2 linked regions of the Homo sapiens genome follow. The protein of the gene in region 1 interacts with the protein of each later gene in a biochemical or structural test. Each region holds a gene or a part of one and is shown in the gene's direction. Other genes may lie near its edges.

What was found.
Region 2: the proteins of RIOK3 (region 1) and CASP10 form a complex in vitro, tested with the Homo sapiens proteins (one study listed by IntAct).

The regions. Positions count from the first base shown.
Region 1 is NC_000018.10:23,477,175-23,483,995, forward strand, and holds the end of RIOK3 (serine/threonine-protein kinase RIO3), read left to right. Parts: exon of another isoform or gene 1-4; coding exon 5-94; intron 95-2,142; coding exon 2,143-2,250; intron 2,251-3,997; coding exon 3,998-4,105; 3' UTR 4,106-5,966; downstream 5,967-6,821.
Region 2 is NC_000002.12:201,178,193-201,186,140, forward strand, and holds the start of CASP10 (caspase-10 isoform 1 preproprotein), read left to right. Parts: upstream 1-4,948; 5' UTR 4,949-5,116; intron 5,117-7,578; 5' UTR 7,579-7,585; coding exon 7,586-7,932; intron 7,933-7,948. UniProt on the Homo sapiens protein: Involved in the activation cascade of caspases responsible for apoptosis execution. Recruited to both Fas- and TNFR-1 receptors in a FADD dependent manner. May participate in the granzyme B apoptotic pathways.

The DNA.
Region 1 (6,821 bases):
ATAGGTCTGGTTGATCGATGTCAGTCAGTCAGTAGAACCTACCCACCCTCACGGCCTGGAGTTCTTGTTCCGGGACTGCAGGAATGTCTCGCAGGTAGACGTGTAAACCAATATGCCTTTTTTTGTTGGATGTAACAGCTGCAGGTATTTTTCTCACTCCTAAGATAAGTAAGAGGACCATATTCTTAGAAATTGAAGGAAGGGATACGGGCTGCTTTCAGGACAAGGATATAAAGATCAATTTGTCATATTTCATTTTGCAAGAATTTGATTCCATGTCTTACAGTTGGGTAAAATGTTCAAGGGGTGCCAGGTATGGTGGCTCACGCCTGTAATCCCAGCACTTTGGGAGGGTGAGGTGGGTGGATCATTTGATGTCAGAGGTTCAAGACCAGCCTGGCCAACATGGTGAAACCCCATCTCTACTAAAAATGCAAAATTAGCCGGGCATGGTGGCAGGCGCCTGTAATCCCAGCTACTTGGGAGGCTGAGGCAGGAGACTCACTTGAACCTGGGAGGCAGAGGCTGCAGTGAGCCAAGAACGTGCTACTGCACTCCACCCAGCCTGGGCAACAGAGTGAGGCTCCGTCTCAAAAAAAAAAAAAAAAAAATATGCCAGGTGCAGTGGTTCATGCCTGTAATCCCAGCACTTTGGGAGGCCAAGGTGGGTGGATCACCTGAGGTCAGGAGTTCAAGACCAGCCCGGCCAACATGGTGAAACGCTGTCTGTACGAAAAATACAAAAAAATTAGTTGGGTGCGGTAGCGTGTGCCTGTAATCCCAGCTAGTTGGGAGGCTGAGGAAGGAGAATCACTTGAGCCTGGGAATCGGAGGTTGCAGTGAGCCAAGGTTGCGCCATTGCACTCCAGCCTGGGTGACAGAGCAAGACTCCTTCTCCAAAAAAAAAAAAAAAAATGTTAAAGGGAATAAGTGAGTGTTTTGGCTCCTTGTATATAAGCAGTCGAGTAGACATTTAATGTGTGCATAGTGCTTAAACAGAAGCTGGTGTGCCTGTATGCTTGCTGCCATTATTACCATTAAAAGAGGGACAGTCTCTATTGTGGGACAGTGTCTGATCACTGTCACTGTGAAGCATGGTAAGAAGATTAGGTGGCTGGGCATGGTGATTCACGCTTACAATCTCACACTTTGGGAAGCCAGGGAGGGAGGATTGCTTGAGCCCAGGAGTTTGAGACCAGCCTGGGCAACATAGTGAGACTCCTATCTCTACAAAAAAATTTAAAAAGTAGCTGGGTGTGGTGGAACATGTCTGTAGTCCTAGCTGCTTTAACTGGGAGGCTGTTTTACTAGGGAGGCTGAGGCAGGAGGATTGTTTGAGTCCAGAAGTTCAAGATTATAGCGAGCTGTGATTGTGCCACTGCACTCCAGCCTGGATGACAGTGCTAGGCCCTGTCTCTTAAAAAAACAAAACATATATATATATATATATATATATATATATATATATATATATATATATATATGGTAAAATTTAGTAAGCACAGGGTTGGGTCACACTTGTTTGGCATTTCTAAGGGAAATGAATTGTTGGCAGTAGATTCAGATAGCAATGATCTTTCTAAAGGATAGAGTAACTTCATATTGGAAATAACCTCTGAGCCTGCTTGAAATTTTTAATTTCTGGGGTTTAGTGAAAGTATTTCCTTTACATATTCAAAGCAATGCCAAGTGGTTTTATTTATAGCACTCATTTTTATAGCTATAGAAGGTGCAGTGGTATGAGCTAAATCCAGAAGGCAGGATGGATGTGTGAGAGGATGAAAAGCAACTAGAACCTGAGTATAGTCCAGCTTGGAAGCAGGAAAATCGATGGTTGAGAAATGAGGCAAGGAATGTAGTGGCTCAAGAGATCCTCCCTCCTTGGCCTCCCAAAGTGTTGGGATAACAAGGATAACAGGAGTGAGCCGCCATGCCTGGCTGAGCCAGTAATTTTTACTCTCTTAAAAACTAGGTTATTCCTAATGATTCTGCCTTTGAGTTGAAATTACTGTGTGTGTGTGTGTGTGCGTGTGCACACGTGCATGCATCCAAGTCTTTTTATAAATGTGCTGCTCCCTGTTTTTAGTTTATAAGAGAACATTGCTAATACTTCTTACTGACTTTCTTGTATTTCCTTACTAGTTTTTCCAGAAAGGAGGAGTCAAGGAAGCCCTTAGTGAACGAGAACTCTTCAATGCTGTTTCAGGCTTAAACATCACAGCAGATAATGAAGCTGATTTTTTAGCTGAGGTATGTGATAAACAGCTGTTTTTCACCTTGCTGGTCATGCAGAACTGCATAGAGGAGATAACTGAAACCCAGAGCTAGTTTTATCCTCCCTTTCCCCCAAAACAAAATTAATTTGAGATTTTTCTTTTCTTAAGATGTTTTTGGTTTTTTCTTTTTTTCTTTTTTTTTTTGAGATGGAGTCTTGGTTTGTCACTCAGGCTGGAATGCAGTGGCGTGATCTTGGCTCACTGCAACCTCTGCCTCTTGGGTTCAAGCGATTCTCCTGCCTCAGCCTCCTGAGTAGCTGGGATTACAGGTGTGTGCCACCATGCTTGGCTAATTTTTGTATTTTTGGTAGAGACAGGGTTTCGCCATGTTGGCCAGGCCGGTCTTGAACTCCTGGCCTCAAGGGATCCACCCACCTTGGCCTCCCAAAGTGCTGAGATTACAGGCATGAGCCACTGTGCCCGGCCTGTTTTTTTCTATACTTAAAATTCAGAATACACACACAGCAAAACATTTCTTCACGGAGGGCACCATTTGGTTAAGATGGGCAAACTGTACATTTCCAGTAGACTCCTATTTCCCCTATTTAATGAATGAGGAAGTTGAACACTCTGAGTGATACAAAAAATAGTAACATGTGGTCCCTGCCCTTTACTAAACATAGAAAGTTAGAAGTGCCTATCTTTGGAAATACCCGGTTATTATAATATCAGATCTAGAGAACCATGAAAAAGCTTCCTCCAGAGAAAGTCTCTTAAAATTGAACAAAATCTAAAAGGTGAAATAGCAGTTAATTATTCCCAACATTATACCAAAGCAGAGAGTGATTACTGAGTCTGTTCCAGAAATCCCCAGGATGACTTGAGTTTGGGTAAGCTGGGCCTAGCCTAAGGCTAGAGAGAAATAACAGAAAGATGGTAAATTCATTCTTCCAGCACAATACAGTTGCTCAGTAAGTAAGTGATACTGTTGTTTGATGAATGGTAGAGTTTTCTTTTTCCTGTTTCTGGAATGTTTTATAGAATACATTTCAAAACATAGATGATTCCAATTGCTAGCTGGATAAAGATAGTAAATATTGACCCTTGCAATCAAGTTAAAAAAAATACATGTATGTATGACTATTTGTGTATACTTGGATGCACGCACACACACACACACACACACACACACACACACACATAGTAATTTCAACTCAAAGGCAGAATCATTAGGAATAACCTAGTTTTTAAGCGAGTAAAAATTACTGGCTCAGCCAGGCATGGCAGCTCACTCCTGTTATATCTGTTATCCCAACACTTTGGGAGGCCAAGGAGGGAGGATCTCTTGAGCCCAGGAGTTTGAGACCAGCCTGAGCAACATAAACTCCATTAAAAAATAAAAAATAAAAAAACTGGCTGGACACGGTGGCTCACGCCTGTAATCCTAGCACTCTGAGAGGCCAAGGCGGGTGGAACACCTGAGGTCAGGAGTTCGAGACCAGCCTGGGCAACATAGTGAAACCCGTCTTTACTAAAAATACAAAAATTAGCTGGCGTGGTGGCACATGTGTCCCAGCTACTAGGGAGGCTGAGGCAGGAGAATTGCTTGAACCCAGGAGGCAGAGGTTGCAGTGAGCCGAGATTGCACCACTGCACTCCAGCCTGGACGACAGAGTGAGACTCCATCTCAAAAAAAGAAAAAAATTACTAGCACAATCTAAAATATGGTTTCTGTGAAAAGTAGGATTTTGACAAATGGATTCAATGTATTATTTTTGTAGATAGAAGCTTTGGAGAAAATGAATGAAGATCACGTTCAGAAGAATGGAAGGAAAGCTGCTTCATTTTTGAAAGATGATGGAGACCCACCACTACTATATGATGAATAGCACTAATACCCACTGCTTCAGTGTTAACACAGCAGTGATTGTCAGCTGCCAATAGCAAATGAAGTTATGGGTGACTTGAAATACCAAAACCTGAGGAGTGGGCAATGGTGCTTCTGTGCTTTTCCCCCTTGTAACCCATGTGCCAGATGTGTGGAATTTTTAGCTCAGCATTGAGAGAATAAAATGTCACTACCTCTCATCTTATGAACAGGATAATATAATTCTTTAACAGCTATAGGTTATCTGGCTGAAGTAGACCTAATTTTATGTGACTTGTGGTGTAAAATGTCTTGATGATAATTTTTAAAACTTGGGTAACACTTCCAAATATGGGAGGAAAGGACAGATGTGTTTACAAGGGAGGATTTTACAACATACTTGCTTTATTCACCTCCCTGTTTTGTGTTGCGTCTTTCCTTGAATATTTTATTGGCCCAGAGTTAGCCTTTCTCAATTATGTTTCCAGACTGTGGCCGTGATTCTAAAGGAAAATGTGTGCTCTTTAGTGGGTAGAACAAATGGAAATTTGGTTTCAGAATGGCTGACAGAAATCGACATAAGTCATGTAATTTTTGTTGATATATCATGAAAATGAACAGAATTCTTTTTCCATACTTATATCTAAGAAAAGGCATCATAGGTTTCTGAAAGAGATAACTATATAACAGCTTTTTAACTATCCAGTCAACTTTCAGCTTTTCTACATTTAGGTAAAATGGTTAGGATATAACTCATGGTGTGGCTAATCTACATTTATCAATAAAATGTAAATTATCTGAAAGGACAGAATATAAGATTTAACCATGTTTGACGTATTTTAATTTAGTTAATGAAGCAAAATTCAGTTTATATTTCACTAGAACTGTGTACTTGATTGATTTTCAGAGAAATATCACAAATTAGAAATATTAAATCTAAGGATGAAAGGTATATATAAAACAATTTGGGGGCCAGGCACGATGGCTCAAACCTGTAATCCCAGCACTTTGGGAGACCAAGGCGGGTGGATCACTTGAGGTCAGGAGTTCAAGACCAGCCTGGGCAACATGGCGAAACCCTGTCTCTACTAAAAATACAAAAATTAGCCGGGTGTGGTGGCACTTCTCTGTAATCTCAGCTTCTCAGGAGGCTGAGACAGGAGAATCGCTTGAACCCGGGAGGCAGAGGTTGCAGTGAGCTGAGATCATGCCACTGCACTCCGGCCTAGGTGACAGAGGGAAACTCCATCTCCAGGAAAAAAAAAAAAAAACCCAATTTGGATACCAAATTAATCAACTAATTTGAGCTATCTGGCCTTACTCTTAGTAGTTTTTAGTACGTGCTGGACACCACTTTTAAAAAGCAATCACTGTGCTAGAAAAGTATATTGGCTTTGTTAGGATTAAAGTTCATTAACTTCAATGTAATCATGCCTCCTATTACTGAAGTCAGATTGGAACCACTAAAGATCCAAACTTTCTGTCTGGTAATAGAAAGTAAAAATCTAGACATCATTTACATTTGAGAAAGCTGTTTTTAACATTATTTTAAAATGCCAAATATGTTCTTTCTAGAAAAATATTTATTTTTGTTTTTGTTGGATAGCTTTTAATTACATTTCAGAGAGGTGTAATTTTGGGTAGATGCTCATTACATTTTTGAAAGGTTTATGATTCCAAAATAAAGATTTATATGACTGGTGATACTGGCTTTACAGAAATTTCAGAGAACTAATTTTTAAAATCTTTAGCATTTAAAACTTTTTTTGTTTTGTTTTCTGACATATTCTGACAAAGAGCAGCAAACCACTGCTGTGTGGCATTCTTGGAGTGTGCTGTGAATGTGCTTTTTAAGAAATTAAAAAGAGATCATTTTAAAATTGGTTCTTTGTGTGGTATCTTCCTGTTCCTTATATTAACTTATGTCCTGGTACCAAGTTGCTGTTTCTGTATAAAGTTAAGCAATGCTATTTTAAGTAGATTATTCCCCCTCAACTTCTCATTGTTAGATTTCAATCGCAAATGGCCTACTTCACATTACAAATAGGTTCCCCCCCTCACACCTTGTAGATTAGAGAGTAGATTTTTTTCCCATAGTAGAAAAAGAAAGTGAAAAATACTGGTTTGCTAAGTAAATAAAAAATCAAATACTGGCTGGGCGTGGTGGCTCACACCTGTAATCCCAATACGTTGGGATGCTGAGGCAGGATGATCACTTGAGCCTAGGAGTTTGAGATCTGCCTGAGCAGCATAGCAGACCTCATCTCTACAAAACATTAGGTGAGTGTGGTGGCATGCATCTCTGGTCCCAGCTACTTGGGAGGCTGAGGCAGGAGGATTCTTAGAGCTCAGGAGATCAAGCCTGCAGTGAGCTATGGTCACACGACTACACTCCAGCCTGGGTGATAGATAAAGACTTGGTCTCAAATAAATTAATAAAATGAAAATATATAAAATACGGAAATAGGGATATTTTGTCTCACATTAAGTTATCAAAATAAGGATGACTAGATAACTTTTATTTCAACAAGATAATTACCAGTTTTCTTTTCATAAAAATTAGTTTTTCTTGCTTACAAAAGTAAGTCATTTATTTGAATTTAAATATTGTAGGAATTCAGAAATGTTCAAGTAAAAGTCCCTCGGCCAGGCGCAGTGGCTCAGGCCTGTAATCCCAGCACTTTGGGAAGCCGAGGTGGGCAGGTCACCTGAGGTCAGGAGTTTGAGACCAGTCTGGC
Region 2 (7,948 bases), on another chromosome or scaffold:
TGGTGCTAGAGGAATTAGACACACATACAGAAATATAGAGTGTGGAGTGGGAAATCAGGGGGCTGACAGCCTTTAGAGCTGACAGCTCCGAACAGAGAGTTACCCACATATTTATTGACATCAAGCCAGTGATAAGCATTGTTTCTATAGATTATAGATTAATTAAAAGTATCCCTTATGGGAAACAAAGGGATGGGCCGAAACAAAGGGATGGGTTCTGGCTAGTTATCTGCAGCAGGAACATATCCTTAAGGCACATATCACTCATGCTATTGTTTGTGGTTTAGGAATGCCTTTTTGCAGTTTTCCGCCCTGGGTGGGCCAGGTGTTCCTTGCCCTCATTCCGGTAAAACAACAGCCTTCAGCGTGGCCATCATGGCCATCAAGAACATGTCACAGTGCTGCAGAGATTTTGTTTATGGCCAGTTTTCGGGTCAGTTTATGGCCAGATTTGGGGGACTGTTCCCAACACCAGGGTGTGGCTGCAGCCACCCTCCTAGGTGCAGGACCTGGGCATCTCTGCAGCCTGCACCCTGGGGGCCCCAGGAAGGACCCCCTCCCACCCCATCCCGCAGGCTTGGGGGTGTCTGCTCCCGCTGCCTGGCCTCTCTTCACTCCTGGCACCTTCTCCAATCTTGAAGTGGGGTTGGGGCCAAGTCCTGGGGCCTTGAATGGCAATGGGAGGCAGAAGGGGGCAGGTCCCCAGTAAGGTCCTCCTTCAGGCCAGGGAGGGCTGAAGGCTGGGGGTGGGGCTGCCAGTCCTGTGGATTGTAGTAGGGACTCATGGTGCCTCTTCTGGGTGCCCGTGGACAAATTGGCAGCCACTTCCTCCTCTCTGAGGTCCATAAAAGCCCTGGGCTCAGCCAGAGCAGGGCAGAGGATGGCCAGAGGACAAAGAGGGCAGAGAGGTGGTGGGATGACCAGCTGCAGAGAGGAGTACTCTCTGCTGATAGCTGGAGACAATGGGATGGCTGGCTGCAGAGAAGAGCTACCTTCTCCACTGAGAGCTGCAGAGACAACCTGCCAGCAGAGAGAAGCCACCCTTTCCAGGGCCTCCTCTCCACTGAGAACTGAGCACTGGACAGATGACCTGCCTACAGAGAGGAGCTACCCACTGTGGGCCTCCTCTGAGCTGTTCTAGCACTAAATAAAGCTCTTCTTCATCTTGTTCACCCTTCACTTGTCTGTGTACCTCATTCTTCCTGGACGCAGGCCAGAACTCGGGCAAAGGTGCTGCAGTCAGAGAGGTTTCCAGCCAGAAAATTGATACCCCAAAGATCCCGTAACAAAGGTATGGAGCAAAGTGGGGGTAAGGAGGTCTTGGAGGTTGGGGGTGTCAAATCTAGAAGACTTGCTACTTCAAGACCTTCTGAGGACCCTCATAGGTTGGGGTGGAGGTTTCAGTGCTCTGAGCTCTTCTCTAGCCAGTATATCCCTTCCTCCTCCCCCATGGCTTATGCCAATCCTTTAGGAGTCATTACTCTTTTTTTTTGGATGGAGTTTCGCTCTTGTTATGCAGGCTGCAGTGCAATGGCATGATCTCGGCTCACTGCAACCTCTGCCTCTCGGGTTCAAGTGATTCTCCTGCCTCAGCCTCCTGAGTATCTGGGATTACAGGCATGTGCCACCATGCCCGGCTAATTTTGTATTTTTAGTAGAGATGGGGTTTCTCCATGTTGGTCAGGCTGGTCTCAAACTCCCGACCTCAGGTGATTCACCCACCTCGGCCTCACAAAGTGCTGAGATGACAGGTGTGAGCCACCGTGCCCAGCCAGGAGTCATTACCCTTTAGTCTACCCAGACAGAGGGTGGGGAACTTGGACCACAGATTGTATGTCAAGGAAAGCCAACCACTGCTACCACTACCCCCTACTAATGTGGAACTAAAGCAGTAGTTGACATCCACCTCTACAAAAGGCCATGAAGGTTTTGATTGGCCCTTCACGTGCACTCAGTAGACTGCAACCAATCAGGAAAGAGATTGTAAGACGTGTTTATTCTACCACCATCAACATGCCCTCAGTAACTGTGTGTAGGAGGAAGTAGAAAATGCTGAGTACAAATATCTGCACTGCACGCCATCTCCCCTCTGTAACCTGATTCAAATGTTTCCCTGGAGCAGTAGGATAAAAGTTACAGTTTTACTTCCTGGGTCTTTATTCTACCTTTACCTTCCAGACCTAGATCAAATACTTCCTCCTCCAAGGAATGTCTGACTGATTGTCCCTTCTTAAAGCCCCTGTGGCACCAAAGTGAAGCCTCACTGTGGCATCACCACCCCCTGCCCGCAGTTACAGATGCTACACGATGTCATACTGAGATTCGGGCAATGGTAGCCCGGGGATCAAGAGCAAGGGGTTCGGAGTCAGAGAGACCCACGTTTGAGCCCTGAATTCTTGCTCATAGCTTTGGGATGGTGGCAAGATTCCTTGCCTCTCTGAATCTGGGTTTCCTCATCTATTGAATGTGGATAATAATGCCAGCTAAGGCTGGGAGTTGTTATGAGTTCATCAGAGAAGTTTAGAAATGGTAGTACCGGTCGCCATAGTTACTATGGAAAGCAGGTCACTTTGCTTTCCAATTGTGCCCAATTCAGGGCTTTGAATTGCCTGCTAAATATTTAATATTATTGAATCAAAGTTGAAAGAGTTAATATACTTTATGAACAGAGTGAGAGAAAGTGATAGTTTCAATAAGTTGCCTCCCTAAATGGCCCAATAAATTTAATATTTATAATAAAACAACTAAATAGAAGACCAAGACTTACGGCTTGTCTTTCTTCCTTTTTAAGTTATTTTCCAGAAAATAATATTTATATTTTAAGTTAAAGTAACTGCAAATTGGAAACCACAGGGGGAGCCCCAGGCTGGGACAAATAATGACTAGCCTGGTCCCAACAGAACAGGCAAAGAAGGTGGTCCCTACACTCTTTATGGTCAGTTGGGGCCCCCTCCTCACTCTGCTGCAGCATTCTAGGGTCAGGGCCCCACCTTCCCTGGAACTGGGGTAGTGAGTAACCCAGCCTGCTGTGCTCCGGCCCCCCTTTCCCAAGAAGGTTTTTTTTTTTTTTTTTTTTGAGAGAGTCTTTCTCTGTCGCCCAGGCTGGAGTGCAATGGCACGATTTTGGCTCACTGCAACCTCTGCCTCCCGGGTTCAAGCGATTCTCCAGCCTCAGCCTCCTAGTAGCTGGGATTACAGGCATGTGCCACCAAGCCTGGCGAATTTTATGTTTTTAGTTGAGATGTGGTTTCACCATGATGGCCAGGCTGGTCTTGAACTCCTGACCTCAAGCAATCTGCCCACCTCAGCCTCCCAAAGTGCTGGGATTACAGGTGTGAGCCACTGTGCCTGGCCAGGACTTGTCTTTTTCTTTTCTTTTTTTTTTTGAGAAGGAGTCTTGCTCTGTAGCCCAGGCTGGAGTGTGATGGCGTGATATCCGCTCACCGCAACCTCCACCTCCTGCCTTCAAGCGATTATCCTGCCTCAACCTCCCGAGCAGCTAGGATTACAGGTGTGTGCCACCACGCCCAGCTAATTTTTTGTATTTGTAGTAGAGACAGCGTTTCACCATCTTGGCCAAGCTGGTCTCGTGATCCGCCTGCCTCAGCCTCCCAAAGTGCTGGGATTACAGGCGGGAGCCACTGCACCTGGCCCCAGGACTTGTCTTTCTTAAGCACAGAAGTTCTCTGAATGATGCCTAGGACATGGAAAGGACATTTTAATACATTTGCTAATCAAAGCATCATAAATCTTGCTTTTTTTCCCCATAGATAAAACATCTTTCTAAGACTCTGTACCTCTTTCCAGAGTGCTGCACATTTGAGTTAGCTTAATTATAGTGTAGTGACTTTGATCCAAACTTGCTGGTTTAAATCTTGGCTCTTCCAGCCGCTCACTGTGTGACCTTGGGCAAATTAATTAACCTTTCTGTGCCTTAGTTTTCACATGTTAAAGCAGCAGTCATAGTAATAGTATTTATCTTACAGTGTTGTTGGGATGGTGAAATGAGTAAATATTTGTAAATGCCCTGGCACATGGTAGTTGCAATATTAGTGTGCAGTATTGTTTTTATGATTAGAAATAATGTCTTCAAAGTCTCACTTTCCTGCTGGTTTGAATGTGCTGTGAGAACACATACTGTCAGTTTTGCCTACCACAAATTTGTTGAGTCTCTTGCAGGTACCTCCAAATGGGCTTGTAATTCACCATCCCCACTTTTCTTTTTTTTTTCCTTTCTTTTTCTTTTTATTTCTTAATTTCTCCCACAAAGACTGAAAGTGAATCCCCACTTTTCTTTTATCTTTTAAAAATTTTATTTGTGGGCCGGGCACGGTGGCTCCATGCCTGTAATCCCAGCACTTTGGGAGGCCAAGGAGGGTGGATCACAAGCTCAGGAGTTCGAGACCAGCCTGGCCAACATGGTGAAACCTCGTCTCTACTAAAAATACAAAAAATTAGCCGGGCGTGGTGGCGCATGCTTGTAATCCCAGCTACTCGGGAGGTTGAGGCAGGAGAATCACTTGAACACAGGAGGCAGAGGTTGCGGTAAGTGGAGATCGCTCCATTGTTTATTTGCATGTGGACATAAGAAAGGGTTAACATGGCCGACAACTATTTCATGAGCTTTTTGGCTTTATTTGAAAAGTGAAGTGTGTTTGGGGAAGGAGTTGGTTAGGAAAACAGATGCTTCCCTTTTTGACTTACCAAGGAAATGGAGATCCAAAGGAAAGCCTGAAGCACTTTGTGGCTTCCACGGGTTCGTTTCTAGGAAGCTTTTGCTTTACCTGGGGAAACCCCAAGCTCTACAGTGAGAAAGTTGTAAATTAGCCTTTAGGAGACGCTGTTTGTCAAAGTTATCTTAACCCTGGAAAAGGGGAGGGAAAAAGGCAGATAAGCAGTGATGACATCAGCAGGAAACTAGTATCAGGCTACCCAGTCCTGAAGATTCAGTTTTCACTTAAACAACCAGCAAGTCTTGAAGTCTCTTCCCAAGCAAATGGGAGCTTCTTTGGACCTTGGAGCACACAGAGGATTCTACTTTCTTTAAAACTTTGTTTTCAGGCAATTTCCCTGAGAACCGTTTACTTCCAGAAGATTGGTGGAGCTTGATCTGAAGGTATGTAATTAACAACCCTTCTTACTCCAGAGTCTCATGCTTGAATCTTTTCCTTTGCTTCATGGCTTCGTGTTGTAGAAACTTGCAAAAACTTGTCAGCAATGGCACTATTTTTTCTTAGATTTCTTTGTCATGCCTGGGAAAACAAAAGTTAAAAAATCCGGAAGCCTCCAACATAGCCTTTTACCGGGGCAGAAATATGTTAGCTCACAGAGACAAAGTTTGGTAGACTCACTAAAACTAGAGATCAGAATTGTCAAGAAACCACAAGGCAAATGCTAGATGCGGTAGAATAGAAAGGTGTCTCCAATAAACCACTCATTTGACCTCAGGGCTAGTAGCAGGGAAGATCCCCTGGATTATCACATTAAAAATGACATTTTTTTGTTTCTTTTAACACCAAAAGTAATGTGTATGCTCACATATGCATAAAATTTGAGAAATTCAATTGGAAGCCCAGAAGGAAATTTGTATTATCTATAGTTATGTCACCTCGATATAACCACTGTTTGTTATGGAGGTTTTGATTTTTGCTGTGTCTTCCTTCCTTTATTTATTTATTTATTTATTTATTTATTTATCTATTTATTTATTTGAGACGGAGTCTCCCTCTTTCACCCTCCAGCACTCAAGCTGGAGTGCAGTGGCACAATCTTGGCTTACTGCAACTTCCGCCTCCCAGGTTCAAGCAATCCTCCCATCTCAGCTTCCTATGAAGCTGGGACCACAGGCATACACCACCAAGCCCAGCTAATTTTTGTATTTTTTGTAGAGACGGGGTTTCACCGTGTTGCCCAGGCTTGTCCCGAATTCCTGGCCTCACAGTGATCCACCTGCCTCAGTCTCCTGAAGTGCTTCTCTGATTATAATGAAATTTAGTATGTAGAATACCATAGTTTATAGACTAGTCAGATGGAAACATTGACTCATGTAATTTTTATCTTCCTTCGCTGATTTGAGCAACTCTTGTCTAAAATCACCCTTTCCTTCTGAGGTCTAGGAGGTTTTTTTGTTGTTGTTTTGTTTTGTTTTTGAGGCAGGGTCTTGCTCTGTCACCCAGGGTGGAGTGCAGTGGCACAATCATGGCTCACTGGAACCTCCATCCCCGGGGCTCAAATGATCCTTCTGCTTCAGCCCTCTGAGTAGTTGGGACCACAGGCGTGCACCACCATGCCTGGCTAATTTTTGTATTTTTTGTAGAGATGGGGTTTTACCACGTTGCCCAGTCTGGTCTTGAACTCCTGGCCTCAAGTGATCCACCCGCCTTGGCCTCCCAAAGTGCTGGGATTATAGGCGTAAGCCATGACACCCCACCTGTTCCTTCCTTTATAAAGTATTTTCTTGTTTCTAAAAATAGCCAAGTTCTGCATATTGACTACATACCTCAAGTGCTTATAGAATAAATAGTATTACAATGAAAATTTTATCACTGCATTGCTCCTCTGATTATGATGAAATTTAGTATAGAGAATAGCATAGTTTATAAACTGATCAGATGGAAACATTGACTCATGTAATTTGTTTTTTTTTAGTGAAAACAAGTTTATTAGAGAAGTAAAGAAACAAAAGAATGGCTACTCCATAGACAGAGCAGCCGACTCATGTAATTTTTAACTTCCTACACTGATTTGAGCAACTCTTGTCTAAAACCACCCTTTCCTCCTGAGGTCTAGGATATTTTATTTATTTATTTTTCTTTTTGAAACAGGGTCTCACTCTGTCACCCAGGGTGAAGTGCAGTGGCATGATCATGGCTCACTGCAACCTGTGCTCCCCAGGCTCAAATGATCCTTCCATCCTCGGCCTCCTGAGTAGTTGGGACCACAGGCATGTGCCACCATGCCCTGATAATTTTTTGTATTTTTAGTAGAGACCAGGTCTCGCCATGTTGCTCAGGCTTGAGGTCTAGGATTATGCCTTCCCTTTCTGTAAGATAAAGGCCTGCCCTCTTACAGGTAGCAGTCTGAAGTTAAGATGTAACACACATACCTCACGGTACCTTGCTGTCTTTGGGTTGATAGATCATAAGGATAACCCTGCCTCCCCCAGATTGCTTTGTGTCTAAAACTTAAAGCATAGAGCCAAGTGCTATTTCTGCCACGTGCTGGAAATGAATGTAAGGGCTCCAATCAGGCTACCAGGCTTGAGAAAAATTGTGCTGTGTCCCTCCATCTTAACTTTCTCTCTCTGGGAACATTTTGATTTGGGAGAAATCAAGGTGAATTGAATTCCAATATAAGCACCCTCCAAGTTTCCTAAAAAGTAACTTGCAAGTGTTGGGGAAAAGTTTTCTGGGCTGTTGCTTTTTGAAGTAGCCTCGCCGTAATTTTTATTTTTCAGCACTTCTAGGAAAGTCTAATGCCCAGAACGGAGAAGGTTGTGGTGAGGGGAGGGCCTGGGAAGTCAGGGGGCCATATGTCCTCACTCTCTAACTCCCTGCCCCACCTCTCTGTCCCTTTCAGGCTGGCCATGAAATCTCAAGGTCAACATTGGTATTCCAGTTCAGATAAAAACTGTAAAGTGAGCTTTCGTGAGAAGCTTCTGATTATTGATTCAAACCTGGGGGTCCAAGATGTGGAGAACCTCAAGTTTCTCTGCATAGGATTGGTCCCCAACAAGAAGCTGGAGAAGTCCAGCTCAGCCTCAGATGTTTTTGAACATCTCTTGGCAGAGGATCTGCTGAGTGAGGAAGACCCTTTCTTCCTGGCAGAACTCCTCTATATCATACGGCAGAAGAAGCTGCTGCAGCACCTCAACTGTACCAAAGAGGAAGTGGAGCGACTGCTGCCCACCCGACAAAGGGTTTCTCTGTTTAGGTGAGGACGGGTCTGT